Linked DNA regions of Homo sapiens: all the other regions are linked to region 3. Evidence: fine-mapped expression QTL. A gene starts in region 3. Each other region holds a variant in brackets. All regions are shown on one strand. Distances are between the middles of the regions.

What was found.
Region 1: its variant is fine-mapped to the expression of GSDME in whole blood (TOPMed, PIP above 0.99). The same link has a PIP of 0.9 or more in blood mononuclear cells and monocytes.
Region 2: its variant is fine-mapped to the expression of GSDME in whole blood (TOPMed, PIP above 0.99).

What each region holds. Positions count from the first base shown.
Region 1 is chr7:24,725,029-24,730,586 of GRCh38, forward strand. All of the region lies in intron 3 of GSDME (gasdermin E), which reads right to left. Among named protein-coding and RNA genes, the nearest start is that of GSDME, 30 kb to the right of the region's middle. RefSeq lists enhancers at 1-39, 724-1,407, 1,408-2,089, 2,410-2,629, 3,500-3,609. The variant G/A (reference allele first, on the strand shown) is at 2,337.
Region 2 is chr7:24,716,306-24,721,863 of GRCh38, forward strand. It overlaps GSDME (gasdermin E), which reads right to left. Exons shown (of 10, transcript NM_001127453.2): 4 at 2,742-2,913; 5 at 949-1,069. Among named protein-coding and RNA genes, the nearest start is that of GSDME, 38 kb to the right of the region's middle. RefSeq lists enhancers at 1,375-1,962, 2,249-2,448, 2,569-2,758, 4,256-4,355. The variant G/A (reference allele first, on the strand shown) is at 3,214.
Region 3 is chr7:24,754,004-24,759,561 of GRCh38, forward strand. It overlaps GSDME (gasdermin E), which reads right to left and starts at 3,461. Exons shown (of 10, transcript NM_001127453.2): 1 at 3,393-3,461. It overlaps LOC124901820 (translation initiation factor IF-2-like), which reads right to left. Exons shown (of 3, transcript XM_047421177.1): 2 at 3,659-3,934; 3 at 2,321-3,566. The coding sequence ends at 2,853. RefSeq lists silencers at 3,011-3,060, 3,071-3,650, 4,461-4,610 and an enhancer at 3,731-3,960.

The sequences.
Region 1 (5,558 bases), 29 kb before region 3:
GCCTCACCAAGAGCAGATGCTGGCACCATGCTTCCTGTACAGCCTGCAGAGCCATGAGCCAATTAAACCTCTCTTCTGTATAAATTACCCAGTCTCAGGTATTTCCTTATAATAATGCAAACAGACTAACTCAATCTCCTCCTAGCTGAGCTACTGCTCCAGTCCTGAAGCTTAGTTTGCACATCTGTAAACTGAGAATTTGCTATGAGGGTTACGTTCAGTGAGATCTTGCATTAAATGACCCACACTCTACCCAGCAGATGGCAGGGGCTCTGTAAATGTTTTTTTCCTTCCACTATTGGCAGGGAAGGCAAGTCAAGACCCCTTTCCAGGGTGGTCAAAGAAATGGCCAGAATTTTCAGGATGCTTTATAAGGGAGCCCTCAGCCAGGTGTAGGAGGACGAGCCGCAGACAAAACTCCTCAGATACCAAGTTAAACAAGGAAGGGGTTTATTCGGCCGGGAGCGTCGGCAAGACTCCTGTCTCAAGAGCCAAGCTCTTGAGTGAGCAATTCCTGTCCCGTTTAAGGGCTCACAACTCTAAGGGGGTGCGCATGAGAGGGTCGTGATCGATTGAGCAAGCAGTGGGTACGTGACTGGGGGCTGCATGCTCTGCTAATCAGATTGGAACAAAATAGGATGGGGATTTTCACAGTGCTTTTCTATACAGTGTCTGTAATGTATAGATAACATAACTGATTAGGTCAGGGGTCAATCTTTAACGACCAGGCCCAGGGTGTGACGCCGGGCTGTCTGCTTGTGGATTTCATTTCTGCCTTTTAGTTTTTACTTTTTCTTTCTTTGGAGGCAGAAATTGGGCATAAGACAATATGAGGGGTGGTCCCCTCCCTTAAGGAAGTGGACCCTCAAAGCAATTAAGAGCATGGCTCCATGGACACAGGACAGGAGTTGGATACAAGACGCGGATACATTCAAGACAGCAGCTACATGATACAGGACGAGAGATGGCTGGAAAAGGAGACCAGGCAGGAGCTGCTGGGAGGCGGCAGGCAGAGATGGAGGGAGGGAAGCGTGGCTCAGAGCCCAGCGTGGTTGCTGGGGACCAGAGCAGCCCAGCAGGAAGGGAGGCTCCAGCTCTTCCAGCATCCATCAGCTCCCCAGGCCCAGCCCTAATGAAGCCGCCTCCTCTCCCAGCCTGAAGCTTTAATTTCCATTTTCTCTGCTTCTAAGACTTTCAAGAGCCAAAATGCAAACTCACAGAGGAGAAACCCAGAGACAACTTTTAAAAGTCTGACAATATCCAAAAGGAGGGAAGCAGGTTTCTTTACCAAAGCATAAAGGAGGTCCCGGGGATGCCTCCTGCAGAGACACAGGAGGGCGAGCTTTGTCATGCAGACCCCACACTTCAACTCTCCTTCATTCATCTCCACAAATACCTGAGTTCTGCTATGCTCCAGGCACCAGGCCAGATGCAAGTTTCTCAGGGAAGAGGCCAAGGCAGCCACCACTAGCAGGGTCCTCTTACACAAAAACCCTTGATAGTAACAATGGTAGGCCGGGCGCGGTGGCTCACGCCTGTTATCCCAGCACTTTGGGAGGCCGAGGCGGGCGGATCACGAGGTCAGGAGATCGAGACCATCCTGGTTAATATGGTGAAACCCCGTCTCTACTAAAAATACAAAAAATCAGCCCGGCATAGTCCTGGCTACTCGGGAGGCTGAGGCAGAAGAATGGCGTTAACCCGGGAGGTGGAACTTGCAGTGAGCCGAGATCGCCCACTGCACTCCAGCCCGGGGGACAGAGCGAGACTCCGTCTCAAAAAAAAAAAAAAAAAACCAATGGCCTCGAGGAAGAGTTTCCAATGGAAACCCTGGGGAGCCTGGTAAGGCTCTCCAAACCCCAGGGGACATCATGACAGAGCAGGAGCTTTTGTTGAGTCTGCTGTGGAGAAATTATAAAACTAGAAGGGACCCAAGGGGATTATCTAGCTCTGGGCAGAAACTCAGGTTCATCTTTATTTTCACCTTGATTAATCCATCAGCTATTACTGCCTGGCTGTAGGAAAAGGATTCTAAGGCTGAGTGTGGGCTGGAAGACAGTAAGGAGGAAGAAAGCTGTGATTAAGTGGCAGTGTCTGCTTGGACATGGGAGGGGGATGGCCCTGATCACCTAGATCTAACCCAGTGTCTCTGCTCATTAGTGAAGAATGTGCCCCAGAGAGGTGACAGGCCCACCTGAACCACATGGCCTGTTAGTGGCAGTGCCAAAATCAGGAACTGCATCTTCTGACTCTGAGACCAGTGTGCTTTTCCACTACACTCTTCTAAAGAACAACAAAAAGTGAAAGGTACAAATGCAGACTGAGGAAATGGTGCA[G/A]TACTGCCAGAGCTGGTTTCAACATCTCCCCAGAAACAGAGATGGGGACATGACAGAGAGCCAAAAGGTGGTGGCCAGCCTGCTGCTCAAGGAATATTAAGCAAGAATTACTAACCCACAGAAACAGAGATATGTATTGATGATAAAGGCTTTAGTAAATCCAGAACTTCTCCCAAGGGTTTTGATTTATTGGCTAAAACTACAGTTTACAAAGGATCACACGTGTGTTCACACACCAGCTGTAGAGTAGGAAAATTAGGTCCACAGACATTGCCTGTAAACTCCTTGGCTTTGCCTTTGTGACATTTCATTAAGTGGGAAAGTCTGCTTCTCTCTTGATAACCAACCTCCTCCAGTCTACAGAGATGGCAGAGTTTTATTTCAGTAACTGCCCCCCTAAAATCCTGGAACACACACACCATTGCCTCCTTCATCTGCCGATTTCCCCTCCAAGGGAGGCTCCATTCACCCTTTTCAAAGACTGTAAGCTTTTTGACAACGAAGGCAGGAGAGCAGCGCTCAAACCACATCTGTGCTGCTTCTGCAGGAACTGTCCCCAGCATCCTGTACCGGGAAGGCTGCAAAACCCTCCCACACTACGAGTCGGGGGTGCCACTAGCTGCCGTCCCCAGCACTGTTCGGGAGCTAGGGGGGCTGTAACGGGAGGAAGAGACAGGGTGCACCCAGCCCTGCCAATGAGTCTTGATTTGTCTCTCGGCCATTCTTGGTCACTCCGTTTTTCTTATCAGGAATCGGGGGCAATTCTGGCCAATGAGACCTGAGGAAAATCTGTTAGGGGTTCTCAAGTTTTTCTCCCTCTTAAAAAGGGACACAAAGAAGAGGCCACTTTTCTGCCTCTGGACCTTTTGTCTGCAATGTGGCTGCCATTTAGGGACCAAGAGAACTTGAGCTGCCAGGACAGATGGCGGCTGCCACAGGGGCCCACAGAGCCACCGAACTGACCTTCTGCCGTTAACCATTCAGTCAACCGGGACGCACCCTCTTCGAGATGTTTTCTTATGTGAGATAATAACAAATGTTCTTTGCAACCAGACACCCTAACTGGTATATGAAGTGACCATCATCCTTATTTCAGAAAGCAACAAGAAGCACGAAGAACTCAGAAGCCAAGGGGCTGGGTGAGAATGCAGCTCAGCACCATCCACCCTCGAAGCTCTGCGCCCATCTGCCTCTCCCTCCTGAACCTTCCTGGGCCCTGCATACAGAAGGCGCTTAATGCATGCTTGATTGTTAAAGAACTGGCAGTCTTTCTGCTCCATCCCATGAGAGCTTCCCAGAGTCAGGAAGTGGATCCTCTTGGAAACGAAAGCAGCCGCCCACTGTCTCCCCCGCAGGTACTAGCAGTCCCCATTTCAACCACGTTTCATAACAGAAACTTCCCACACATCAGAGATGCTCAGCCCACAGCCGGGGGCAGGAAATCTCTAGAAACCTCAACTCCTGTGCCCTGGGCCTCCACTTCCAACACAGTGAGATAAGCCCTGCTCTTTCTCTCTCTGTCACTTGGCTGTAATGTAGATGACTTCAGGATTGTAAAATGCTGGGAAAATCAAAATTGGGGCAGAATGCTCACTGCACATTGTTGCCAAAGTGACCAAGTCACCCGCAGACTGTGGCTGCTCCGCCTCTGTCCACATTATAGTCTCTAATACCTTATCTTACTCACATACGACGACCCCTGGAAAGAGAAAGGAAAAAATGACTGAGAACCTGTAGATGTTCAGCCCTTTAGACGAGTAATTAATTAACTGCAACCAGTGGATGAAATGCAGCAAGCCTGGAAGATGATAAACCAAACGCAGCTGATGCCCAGAAGTGACTTCACGCCAAAGCCCTTGGAACATGTGTCTGTTTCCAAGCTCTGTGCATAGAAGTTGGATCGGAAAAATCATGTGTTTAGTGAACTTGGTTTTAAATCCTGAATCTAGGCAAACTAATTAATTTCCACATTCAGGCTCCTCAGTTGTAGAATAAAGATAAACCAATTATCCTTTCAAGCAAACTGGGCTCAGTGTGCCAAAGGCACTGCGCCAGACCCCACAACAAAGGAGGCAGGGCGTTCCAGGAGGGAAACGGACACAGACGCAGGCAACTTCCGACACACTTGACCCTACGGCGTGGTTAGTATGCCACCAGGGGTGATGTGGCTCCTGAAGGAAGTGGGGTCTAACCTAAGGAATACTGAGGAATTGGCTGGGTGACACAGGAGAAGTGAGTCTGTGTGTGTCCTTCATGCCTCTGTGCAGACAGGAGGAGTGAACATCAGACAAGGACTGGAGGTAGAAGGAGCCTGGAGTATTAATCCCAGGAACTGAAATTAGCTCAGCGACTGACCTGGAGGATGTGAGGGCAACTGGTGAGAGATTAGGCTAGAGATTGAAAGCATGGCTCTGTTGCACAGAGGAGCCTGTGGGCATCCTCCTAGGACAGGGGAGAGCACAGAAGGCATGGCTGGGCAGTAAGGGGATCCGACTGGCTACCCTGTGGAGAATCAACTGGAAGGGGAGAGACGAGAACAGGTAAGAGATGGTTGGTGGAGGCCTGCACCATTTCCCAGAGAAACTGTCATGAGACTGGGGGAATGGGAACAGATAAGGTTGATATTTAAGAGGCAGAATCAACTGGTAAGAGACAAGGTGTGGGAGAGAAGGTGAAGAAGGAGCTATGTCTGATATTCAGATTCCTGGCTAAACCAACTGGACTCATGCCTCACCCACCAGCTCACTGGAGGGTTCAGAGAGATGAGAAGTGCAGTGATGAGTTGAGTCTCTGTGTCAAACACTATATGAACAGCCCAAGTGGAACAAACATCTGCTCACCTGAATTCTAACTCCTGACTCATCCCAGCCATCCTGACTGTAGACACTGCAGCTCATCAGTTCTGAGACACATATTTTTTTCTTTACATTTTAACATCTCAGAAATCAGGATGTTTTAAAATTGATAGGTGGCATAGTTTAATTGGCAGTGTTCTTTCTCAATGGTACATAGAATAATGGTGCCTCTTTCAATGGATGACATCTTGGATTTGAAGAAATACAATAATGCCTATCAGTCTTAGAAGAAAATAGTACTTGAATGATTCTTCTTAGGACTTAAATCCTACCTAGTTCCAAAAAGATCTGAAGTTGCCTTTAAAAATAAAGCTCAGCTGGGCACAGTGGCTCACACCTGTAATCCCAGCACTTTGGGAGGCTGAGA
Region 2 (5,558 bases), 38 kb before region 3:
TCACACCCTTTATGCTCCACTCATATTATTTTTGAATCAAACCACAGACATATTACCATTTCATCCGTGAATGTTTCAGTGTACATCTCTCAAAGATAGGATGACTCATTTTTATAAATATAACTATAATACCATTGTCACACCTAAAAAACTTCACAATTTATTATGTTACATTTACCCACTCATGTCCCTAAGGAGCGGTCACACAGCTTTCATGAGTGAACACAACCTCTTCTCATTGGGAACATGAGGAGGGAAGGGGCTGTGAACACCTAAAGTGAGCAGACACGCTGAACCAAAGCTTGGATTTTCTTCCGTGACAACAGCTGGGTCTCTGCGCTTTGAACACACTCGTGATCAGCAGAGGAAAGTCAAGTTCAGCATGTCTGGCTTCATACTTGTGGAGAGGAGGTGGGGTAACAATAATGATGATAATGCTATTAATAGCAAAGGTGGAGGAATTAATAAATGACCACTGTGCCAGGCGCTTCATAGGCCTCATCTCATTAAATCTTCACACAGCCCTGTGAAGAAATGCCCTTCACCTTCCAGAGACAGGGAAGCCAAGACTCAGCAAGATTCAGCAACTTGCCTGAGACCTCATAGGACATCATGGCACCGGGGTTGATGCCCAGTGTGTCTGATGCAGAGCCCAGGTTGATGCCCAGAGGACACAGCCCAGCCCTCTACTGTGCTGGTGGAACTTTGCCCCACACCAATGTTGGAGGAGAGGGTGGCATTGCTCCAGGCATCCCTCACCACACCCCTCCCCCAGTGCAGCCCATGTGTCCAGGGACCATGTCTTGGGACAATCTACGCTCTTCAGACCTCTTTCCCTCTCTTCCCACAGTCTCCAAAGCAGTCGAGTCCTCTGGAAAGCAGTCAAGTCCCTCTGCTGAGGGATCCTCTGCTGGGGATCCCTCAGCACCCATAGGAGGTGGCACTCACCGAACTGGCCGTCCAGTTTCACGTATAACTCAATGACACCGTAGGCAATGGTGGTGGCAGCTGGGATCTCCAGCACCACGTTGGAGTCCTTGGTGACATTCCCATCCTCCGTCGCTGACACCTGTGGGCAAAAGCGCACACTCCCACCTGTGCACTCGGGCTCTCCAAGCTGCTCTGTTCCCCACTGCAGCCAGCCTCGTGCCTTATACATAAGAGATGCTGAGCAATGTCCACAGAACCGAGTGGAACAGAGGAGCCAGCCAGCATGGGGGATGGGGGGATTCAATCCTTGTTGGCATCAGTACACAAATTCCCAAGTAAACGGCCAACCTGGTGGCATCAAAGCGAGATTATAGAGCGTGGGATACAGTGAAGTTAGGTCTACAGTGCTGTGCAAAGATCATACGATACGTAAGATCACCTCCCAATTCCCTCCATCACAGGTTATGGAAACAACTGAAATCCTAATGAAAACCTTAAACAGTAGCCAAGTTGGACTGGGAGAACCTAGCTGAGAGGGCCCCCTACCCCGTGCATATCACTCCAGACCCCTGTAGATGGTGCACAGTGCTGATAAAACCAGGAACAGAGAGGGAAGTGGGAAGAGGCCGGAGGGAGGAGAGGCAGGAAATGCCAAGAAGTCAGGCACCAAGCTCCTGCCTTTAAACACTCTCACAAACAGGACCCCTTCCCACGATGTCCTGGTGAGAGGAAGATGAGAATCTATTTGTTGGCCAAACACTGGCAATCAGAGAACTTTTCTTAGCAACTTGATCCTGGTCAGAGTGTGTTGCTTTGGGTTGAGAAATGGCAGCTGGCCTCCTGACTCTGAAAGGCTTCAACACTTTGGCAGGAAGTGACTGTGGCAGGAGCACCAGCAGGGCCGGCCTGAGCCATCTCCCATCGGCGCCTCCCTCGCTGCTACCCAGCCCCAACCCAGTAAGAGTGCTGGCCCCAGACCTCTACCTCCAGCTCCTTCCAAATACAACTTTCTGAGTTCCTCTAGAAAAAGCCAAAAGTCATCCCAAGAAGTAAATCTCTAAGAAAATATCAGCCACCATGGCAAGCTGGAGGAGAAAGAGTTTGGGGCTGATGGCCACCTAGTCCATTGAAGTTTAGTACTGGCTCACAGATCAGCTTGGTAAGACTGTCAATAACTTAATCTAGAAGAATCTATGTAGAGATAGCTAGATCTTACCTGCCCTAACTCAACCCACAAAGGATTTGCAGCAGCTAATTCCAAGTAATCACTGTGAGAGCCCCAGCTCTGAGAGGCTCTAGGGATTCTTTTGCATTTGGCCTGATCAGTGCCTGTGTGTTCATTTTTCTTGGGGAAACATCTGCCGCCCACAGGAAGAGCACCTGACGCCAGCCCACCTGGCCCATTCGAGTGCCTGCAACCCTGCCCTGCTTCAGGAATGAACATATCCCGGGACGGTCTGGTGAGACCCAGTCCTAGGCCCCCCTCACCCCTGGAGTTGCAGCAAATCAGGAGCAAGCCTGGAGCTGCCAGCACCATAGGGAGAGCCCATCTGAGAGGGCATCAACCCAGGGAAAGCAGCTCCCTATATATCCTCAAGGCCTGGATCCAGCAGTGACTGGAGCCAGTTTCCCCAAGTGTTTCAGCTACATGAGCCAATACACTCTTGCTCATTTAAGACAACGTGAGTTGGGTTTCTGTTAACTTGCTACGGAAAGAGTCCTGACTAATGAAGACACCACCCAAAGAGGCCCCCAACCAAGGTCTCCAGGACTGCTCAGCCATGAACGCAGGGCAGCCCGACTGCACGCACCTGCACCGTCTTGGTCTGGATGCCCACGATGCCACCACACTTCTCCTCGACCTGCATGTGCTCAGAGATCACACACTTCTGCATCGTCGTGATCTTCTGTGTCAAAACGCACAGGACCTCATTCCTTCCTTCCAGCACCTGCTGGAGCACAGGGTTTCTCAGATTTATTGTTCTGAAAAAGAAAAACGGATGTGAGTGGCTTAGTGCCTCAGGGGACATTGGTGTAGTGTGAATTTCCTCTTGCACAGCAGGCAGCTGAGGAGTGAGCAGGTGACAGCCAGGCTTTGTTGATTTCCTCATGATGAAAGGGGTGGCAGGTCACCTGGAAAGACATAAACCAAACTCTCTTGAGGCCACCTCAGAGCTGCCGGGCCTCTGGGGGCCAGGCTAGATGCCAGAGGGAAGGGGGCTTTCAGTCAAACAGCAGCGCCGGTTGTCAAGGAGAAGAAAAGAAAATCAACCAGGGCCAGGC[G/A]TGGTGGCTCACACCTGTAATCCCAGCACTTTGGGAGGCTGAGGCAGGCAGATCACTTGAGGTCAAGAGTTCGAGACCAGCCTGGCCAACATGGTGAAACCCTGTCTCCACCAAAAATACAAAAATTAGCCAGGCGTGGTGGCACACACCTGTAATCCTAGCTACTAAGGAGGCTGAGGCACGAGAATCGCTTGAACCTGGGAGGCGGAATTTGCAATGAGCTGAGATCATGCCATTGCGCTCCAGCCAGGGCAACAGAGCAAGACTCCATCTCAAAAAAAAAAAGGAAAAGAAAAGAAAACTAACCAGGAAGGAAACTGCAATCCATGTACCTTAGACCCTGGAAACTCCACTTTTTTATTTAATCAGAGCTGAAGGATGTCAGACGTCACAGCCATGGCCCAGGGAATACAGGATTATGATGGGAGGAATGGTGACCAATTGCTTCTCATTGAGAAAGGAATAGGCCTAAAGTATGAGTAGCAAGAAGGAAATTAGATTTGAACTAAGAGGAAACTTCTTAACCTGTCTAGGAAAGATGTTTCATCTCTTAGAAGGGGTTTGATGTCTTTTTACACATGGGGAAACTGAGGCTGGTTATGCATGGCCTATCCAGAGTCACTCAGCAGAGATTTGGGGCTCCCACCCAGCCACTTGAAATTCTGCAAACTTTCAAGAACAGACTAAATTTTTATTTACAGGAGATGATTTCATGCTTAGAAGCAAATGATGAAATAACTTCTCTGGAGATCTCATTCAATACTATGATTCTATGAAATGGACAGGAAAAGAACCAAACTAGAGTTGGTGACAGCACAAGAAAAATTATGGTATCCATGCTGGTCTTTTTTTAAGAGGTTAGTTACCTTGAAAAGCTCAGCACCCATCCCTGACCACACACATGCTGGGTCACCCATCCTAGACAGACTCAGGTTCTCTGGGCTTCAGAAAGTAGCCCTGGAACTGGAGTGAGTAGCTAGGAAAGTCCCATCTCAATGTAATCACCTGCCCAGAATAGAAACAACTCACGTGTCCATCAACAGATGAATGGAGAAACAAAATGTGTTATAGTCATATAATGAGATATCATACAGCCATAAAAAGAAATGAAGTTGGGCCGGGCACAGTGGCTTATGCCTGTAATCCCAGCACTTTGGGAGGCCGAGGCAGGTGGATCACCTGAGGTCGGGAGTTCGAGACCAGCCTGACCAACATGGAGAAACCCCGTCTCTACTGAAAATGCAAAATTAGCCAGGCACATGCCTGTAATCCCAGCTACTCAGCAGGCTGAGGCAGGAGAATTGCTTGAACCCGGGAGGCGGAGGTTGCGGTGAGCTGAGATTGTGCCACCGCACTCCAGCCTGGGCAACAAGAGCGAAACTCCGTCTCAAAAAAAAAAAAAAAGAAGTGAAGTTCTGACATCTGCTGCAACATGGGTGAACCTTGAAGACATTATGCCAAGTAACACACTCCAGGGACAAATGAGCAATATTGTGTGGTTCCTCATATGAAATATCTGGAACAGGCAAATTCATAATGACAGAAAGCAGATTGGAGGTTACCGGGGCTGCAGGGCTTCGCTGCCTGATGGCTGCAGAGTTCCTAGTTGAGGTGACGAAGAAGTTCTAGAAATGCAGAGTAGAGATGACGGCACAACAGGGTGAATGTATTTAATGCCACTGAATTTTACACTTAAAAATGGTTACAACAGTAAATGTTGTGTCTCATCTATTTTACCACAATAACAAATAGATAAGACATAGGAAAAACGGGTTCAATCTTAGTACTGGTTAAGGAAATTCAAATTATAAAAATGTCTCACACGTGATAAAAATACATTGATGACAACCACAAAGCTGCCGAGAGACTCCATTTCCAGGAAGGAACAGGAAACAGGGACCCTGGAGCCTGCAGGGCTGGGGTTCGGATCTCAGCTCTGCCCTCCCACTGGGCAAGCTCGAGTGAAGGGCCACCTCTGCACCTAGGTTTTCTCGTGCATGAACTGTTGGTAACAGGGCCCCCTCCTCATGGGGTTCCGTCAGGGTTTAGATGACATGCATGCAGTGAGCCATTAGGGTGTGCCGAGCACAGAGTTAAATGCCACACAAACACTAGCTGGCTCCGCCCACCTTCCCGTGTCCCTCTATGAGGCTCACAAAACAAAGCCACAGTGTGTGCCCTGCATGGGAATTATGGGGCACTGAATTGAATCAGAGGTACGTTTCCACATCACTCCCTTCTTAAAAGCCTTCAATGGCTATATCCCATGTCCAGTGCGTTCCCAGGCTGAGGCCCCATGTGATCTGCCCTGCCCCCTGTTGACTTTATCTTCCAGCCTTCTTACT
Region 3 (5,558 bases):
CGACACAGACAAGCACAGTCATGTCTCAGCCAAAAGTCAGACTCTGGATTAACATTTTCACAATGCTCCAATTTGGGAGAAGATGAAAATGGCCTCAGGAGGCATCATGCTCAAATAGCTCATGGCCTAAAAACTCACTGCACTTCACAGTTGTTACATAGATCACGGACTCTCGCACAGAGCCTTAAAAGTTATATTAGCAGCCGGGCCTGGTGGCTCATGCCTGTAATCCCAGCACTTTGGGAGGCCGAGGTGGGGCGGATCACCTAGGTCAGGAGTTTGAAACCAGCCTGGCCCAACATGGTGAAACCCGGTCTGTACTAAAAATACAAAAATTAGCCAGACATGGTGGCAGGCAGTAATCCCAGCTACTCGGGAGGCTGAGGCAGGAGAATCACTTGAACCTGGGAGGCAGAGGTTGCAGTGAGCCAAGATCCTGCCATTGCACTCCAGCCTGGGCAACAAGAGCGAAACTTTGTCTCAAAAAAAAAAAAAAAAAGTTGTATTAGCAAACAGTCCTTAGTCTGGCTTCCCAGCTGAAAGCAGATGAGAACTAAAAAGGCCAAAGCAAATGCAGTAAGGATATCCTAGCTTGAGTCAGACTCTTGGACAAGAGACCTTGTGGGGCAGACACCAAGAAAGCAGGACAATGACACAAAGTTAGCAAAGCACACAGCCAACTGGAGCCACTGGGAACAAAGAATCTTAAAAATAGTTGCCAAGGTAATGACTGCAGGAGAAGATAACTATATTCACTACTGCCTGTTAAGACTGATTCAGTCATGGAGTTATCTAGTTTTTAAATTAGAAGAGAAACCTCATTCTTTCTCACACTCCATTCAGGATTCTTCTTAAAAGCAGCTCTGGTTGAACCCTGGGCCTCTGCCTGAAGAGTTCTAGAAAAGAAACTTCAACATCAAATACTCTAGACAAAGAGAGGAGCAACTGTTTGTTGAGTATCTGCTATGTTCCAGGCATGGGTCTTACTGCCTTATACACATTTCCTTATTTAATCTTCATAATAACTCTTTGAAGTAGGCAGTGTGAGGAAGCTGAGGTTCAAAGATGTTAAGTAACTTGCCCAAGATCACAGCAAAGAAAGAAGCAGCCCTATCAGGGAACTGGCCTGGAACTATCAGGCCCTGGTGTTGCTGACCATGAATAATGGCACAGAGCATCAACATCAGGCAAGGCCAGTCTTGTCATGATAAATCAACATGAAAACAAGGCTTCTCTGTAATCATGCCTGAACACAGACAAAACATGAACACGTTCAAAGCACAAAAATGATCAAATACCACCCCCCTTCCAATCATTAGCAGTCCTAATGAGTGACTGCTGCTTCCTGACCAATCACAGCTATAGCCTCTCTCTGGCCTTCTCTCATTTTTGACGAGATTTACGAGGATACTCAATCACAGAACTTCCCCTGCTTCCCTGACCACATCCAATTCAGAGCAAAGCCCTCTTTCCCCAAATCACCTACTACATGCCCAAATCCTCTGTCCTTTCTAACACCTCTTATTGAGACATCTCAGGGTTCCCCATGGTGTCCCTCACTTTAAGGAGAAATAAACCAACTTATTGAACTGACAGTGTGTTCCTGGAGGTCTTTGACTGGAGGGGATTGAACATCACATAGAGAATCAGTGCTGAGCCAAGATTCCACCCGAGGTCCACCTGACTCCAAAGCCTGTGCCCTTGACCACTCTACTCTGCTGGCTCCCTGTTCAGCTTTTTTTCTGTTCTAATGTGGGCCTCATATGACTCATTCTGTAACATAAGAAAGTGCCCTTGAAAAAGGTAAACCTCAGTTACGGTGGAAACAGAAATCATTGCTATGGAACATGTGTCATTTCCTTTCTATCTGGGGAGACGAAACATGGCTGTACTTGTCTACTTGTCTCATTGTTAGCAATTTCAGCATACTTTGAATTAGTTTTAGTTTTCTAGATAGCAAAGTGCAATTGGGTCTATTAAATTAGAACAGAGGTGGCATCTTTTATCTTCCTATCCCTACAGCCCAGTACCTGAGCTCATTTTTAATGAGAAGACAAATTAATATTTCATCATTTCTTTCTAAAATAAAAATCGGTATGTGAACGCAATGATGGTCATAAGACAGGCAGGAGCTCGAAAGGAGAAGGAGAGTGAGGCGCCAAAGGCTTTGGGGAAGTGGAGTGGGTAACAGAGGGCAGTCTGGGTAAGAATAGAGAAGATGCGGTGTGGTGGCAGGCACCTGCGGTCTCAGCTACGGGTGTATGGGAGGATCCCTTGAGCCCAGGAATTCAAGGCTGCAGTGAGCTAGGATAGTGCCACTGCACTCCAGCCTTGGTGACAGAGCGAGACCCTCTCTCAACAATAACAAAGAACCTAGCCAAGGGACCGTGGCTAGGGGGTTGGGCCCTTTCTCTCTCAGATCTACCTAATGGTCTGGGCTCAACTTCTCCTTTAGAAAAAGAGCTTGGTGGTGGTAGATTGTGAAGACAATTAATTTCACTCTTCAGCTGCTTCTCCAACCCCACAGCACTCCTTTCATTCCACTTGGACTTGCCCCACCTGCCTGCGTCTCGAGGACAGCGACCGCAAGCCATCCATCCCTTTCATTATCCCATTCACTATTCTGGACAGAGTAGACTCTGGAGGAGTGGGTGGTCGGTGTGTTCAGTCCACAACCAGCGCTTTTCTAAGAGGTGCCCTCTAGTCTTTCCCCTCGGGGTGCAGACGGCAAGCGGCTCTGGAAAGGGTCAGAGGTCCTCAAATGGAGACCAAAGGAAGCCACGCGGGCAGCTCTTGAGAGCCATTCCAGCGCATGCCAGGCACACCGAGTGGGGCTTGGCCTCCTCCCCAAGCTAGGAGCTCTCTAGATACCGGAGCAAAGTGGAGGGGGACTTTTTTCCGTCCAGAGAGACTGAACTCCGTATCTGTTCCGCGGTCCGCCTCCCTGCACACACGCCCCCGAGCCGGGAGAGCCTCCGCAGCACCCAGAGAAGAGACCGGAACACAAAGGATGAACGAATGGGGAGGGGGGGTTTGGGGGGTTGGGAGAACGAAAATACCAGCTGCGCTTCCAACATCCAAGGAAGGAAGTGGCAGCGGGGACGGGGAGAGGATGGGAAGGGGATGCTGACTGCGAGTTGGGGCGGGACGCGGTGATGGGAGGGGACCGGGCCGGGAATGCGGGAGGCGAGGGGAGCGACGGGACCTGCCGTTCCGGCGGCCGGGCAGCCAATCGATTCGTCTCCCCTAGGAAGGAGCGAGGGGAGGGTGGCCCAGAGAGAAAGCGCCGCGCGGCCTCGGCTGCCCCCGGCCCGGGACACCCAAACAGACCAAAGAGGATCCGGAGTGGAGCCCGGAGCGGATCCCGCAGCCCGCGCCCGCCGCGCACTTACCCGCGCGCCCGCTGCTGGGTCCCCGGCAGCCGCGCCCCCTGCGCTGGCGGAGTCGGAGGAGCCTGCGCTGGGCCGGCGGGGGGCGGGCGCTTGGGGAGGGCGGAGAGAGGGCCCGCCCGCCGGGACCTTTGCTCGGTCCGGGCGCCCCAGAGCCGCGGGACTGGCCGCCGGAGGCTGCGGGAGGGGCCCGGGCCAGACCTCCCAGAAGCCCCAGAGAGAGCCGCTTCCCCTCCTTCGTGTGACTCTCTGGGAGCCGGGTTGCTGACGGCCCAGCGCTCAGCCGGAGTCCCCGCGCGCTTTTCGGGACTCACCCGGGAGATGTCGGGGCCTCTCGGGAAGAGTGGGCTGCGCCTGCCTTCCGCGGCCGCCTCGCCTCTTCGCTGCGCGGGACCGTGGGGTTTGAGAGCGGCGCCTCCTCGCGGGGCCGAACCCGCCACCCACAGTGGAGTGTGGACTGACACCGCGGCCTCACGGTTCAACCAGGAAAGTCCAAGGCCTGTCCAGCCTGTGGGAGCCCCTAATGCCCGTGCCTGGAGTAGTATCTGGGTGTGTGGTGCGACAGTGCCCACACTTAGGCCTGCCGCTAATCAGTGATTCATTCCTGTAAACTCCACTCTAAGCTCCTTGAGGGCAAAACCAGGCGCTCTCACACACTGGGTGCTCAACGAATACTGAACGAGGGAATCTCAGCATAGCTGGTGCTCAAACATTGCTTTCTGATGAACTGACTTAAATATTAGCTCTTTTTGTAACATTAGGACCAGCTGAAACCGATTAACCATTACTTAAGTTGTTACAGCGAGGCAGAGCCAAAATCTCCCGGGCGTGTGCAAGAGGGAAAGCTTTCTAATTGTGAACACCGCGCGCCCCGCAGAAGGCTGCATTGGCATCACCTGGGACTGGTTAGAAATGCCAAAAACGCCTGACCCGCTCCCAGGTCCAGAAGACAGATTTAAGCTTTGCCTCTTGTCTCCTTGCCAGTTGACTGGCAATAGAAGTTTTTCTTTTCTCAAAAGCCTGTGCCACAGTTTGGTTTCTGTGTGCCTCAGGTTACGAGCCCATTGCTCAGTGACACTTTCAGTCAGTGTATCGTCTTCACTGTGCAATGCTCTCTACTAAGCTGAGAGCAAAGAGTAAGAGAAAATGAAATTTCTGCCCTGCGAGAGCTCACACAGTATGGAGTTGTGTGGCTGTCTTAAAGGCTGTTCGGGGAGGGCAGGTAGAGAAGCCCGGCAGCGCTTTCCCTTGGGCCCCGCTATGCTTTAAACATATCTCTAGATTGCAATTATCCACCTCACTGTAAAGCCTTTCCTGACTATCCAAATTAAAAGTGCTGCCCACCCACCCACGGGAACACCTCCTAGTTCCTCCTCTGCTTTATTTTTCTCTTTGCACTCACCACCATCTGATAGACTGTGTGCCTCTTATTTCATGTATTATCCTCTCCTGTAAAATGTCAGCAGCATGAGGGCAGCTGGTCTGTTTTGTTCCCTATGCCCAGCACCTAGTTTAGGATTTGACACATGGTAGCTATCCAGTAAATAATTGTTGAATTAAGAAATGAATCCTTTTGTTTGTTTCTCCACCTAGACTGTGGGGCAGTACACATCCTTGCAGTACCCAGCGCAAAATAAGTGCACAATTAGTGGTTATTGGATGAAGAAGTGGTTCGAAATGGTCCATGGTGGTAGGCCCCTGATTTGCTAATGTGATGAGATGTTGGACGAAAGAAAGAATCCCAGCCCTGTCAAGAGACTTTTCATGTATGCTATTGGTTCTCTATCATTATAAAATTATACGGTGATGATTCTGGCTTGTTGCCAGAGATTATTGCATCCCCCGCTAGGGTACTGACCTTAAGAATATCCTCATAAACAGCATACTCATCAGGTTCCCACCCCAAAAAGCCCCAGTCCTCTATCTAGATAGTTACCACTTGTAATTCAGAGTGGGTGAACTTTTTGATGCAACAGTTACTAAGTGGCTTCAAATTCTGTCACTTTTTTTTTTGTCCTGCCTAGTCTTTTAATTAAATGCCCGAGGAAGATAGTAATAATATCAGCTGCTATTATTTATGTAGCACTTTCTGTCTACTGTCACCAAGCATGCTTCTGAGTACATTACATGCAATGATTGGCTCATTTAATCCTTACAACTATTTGGGGG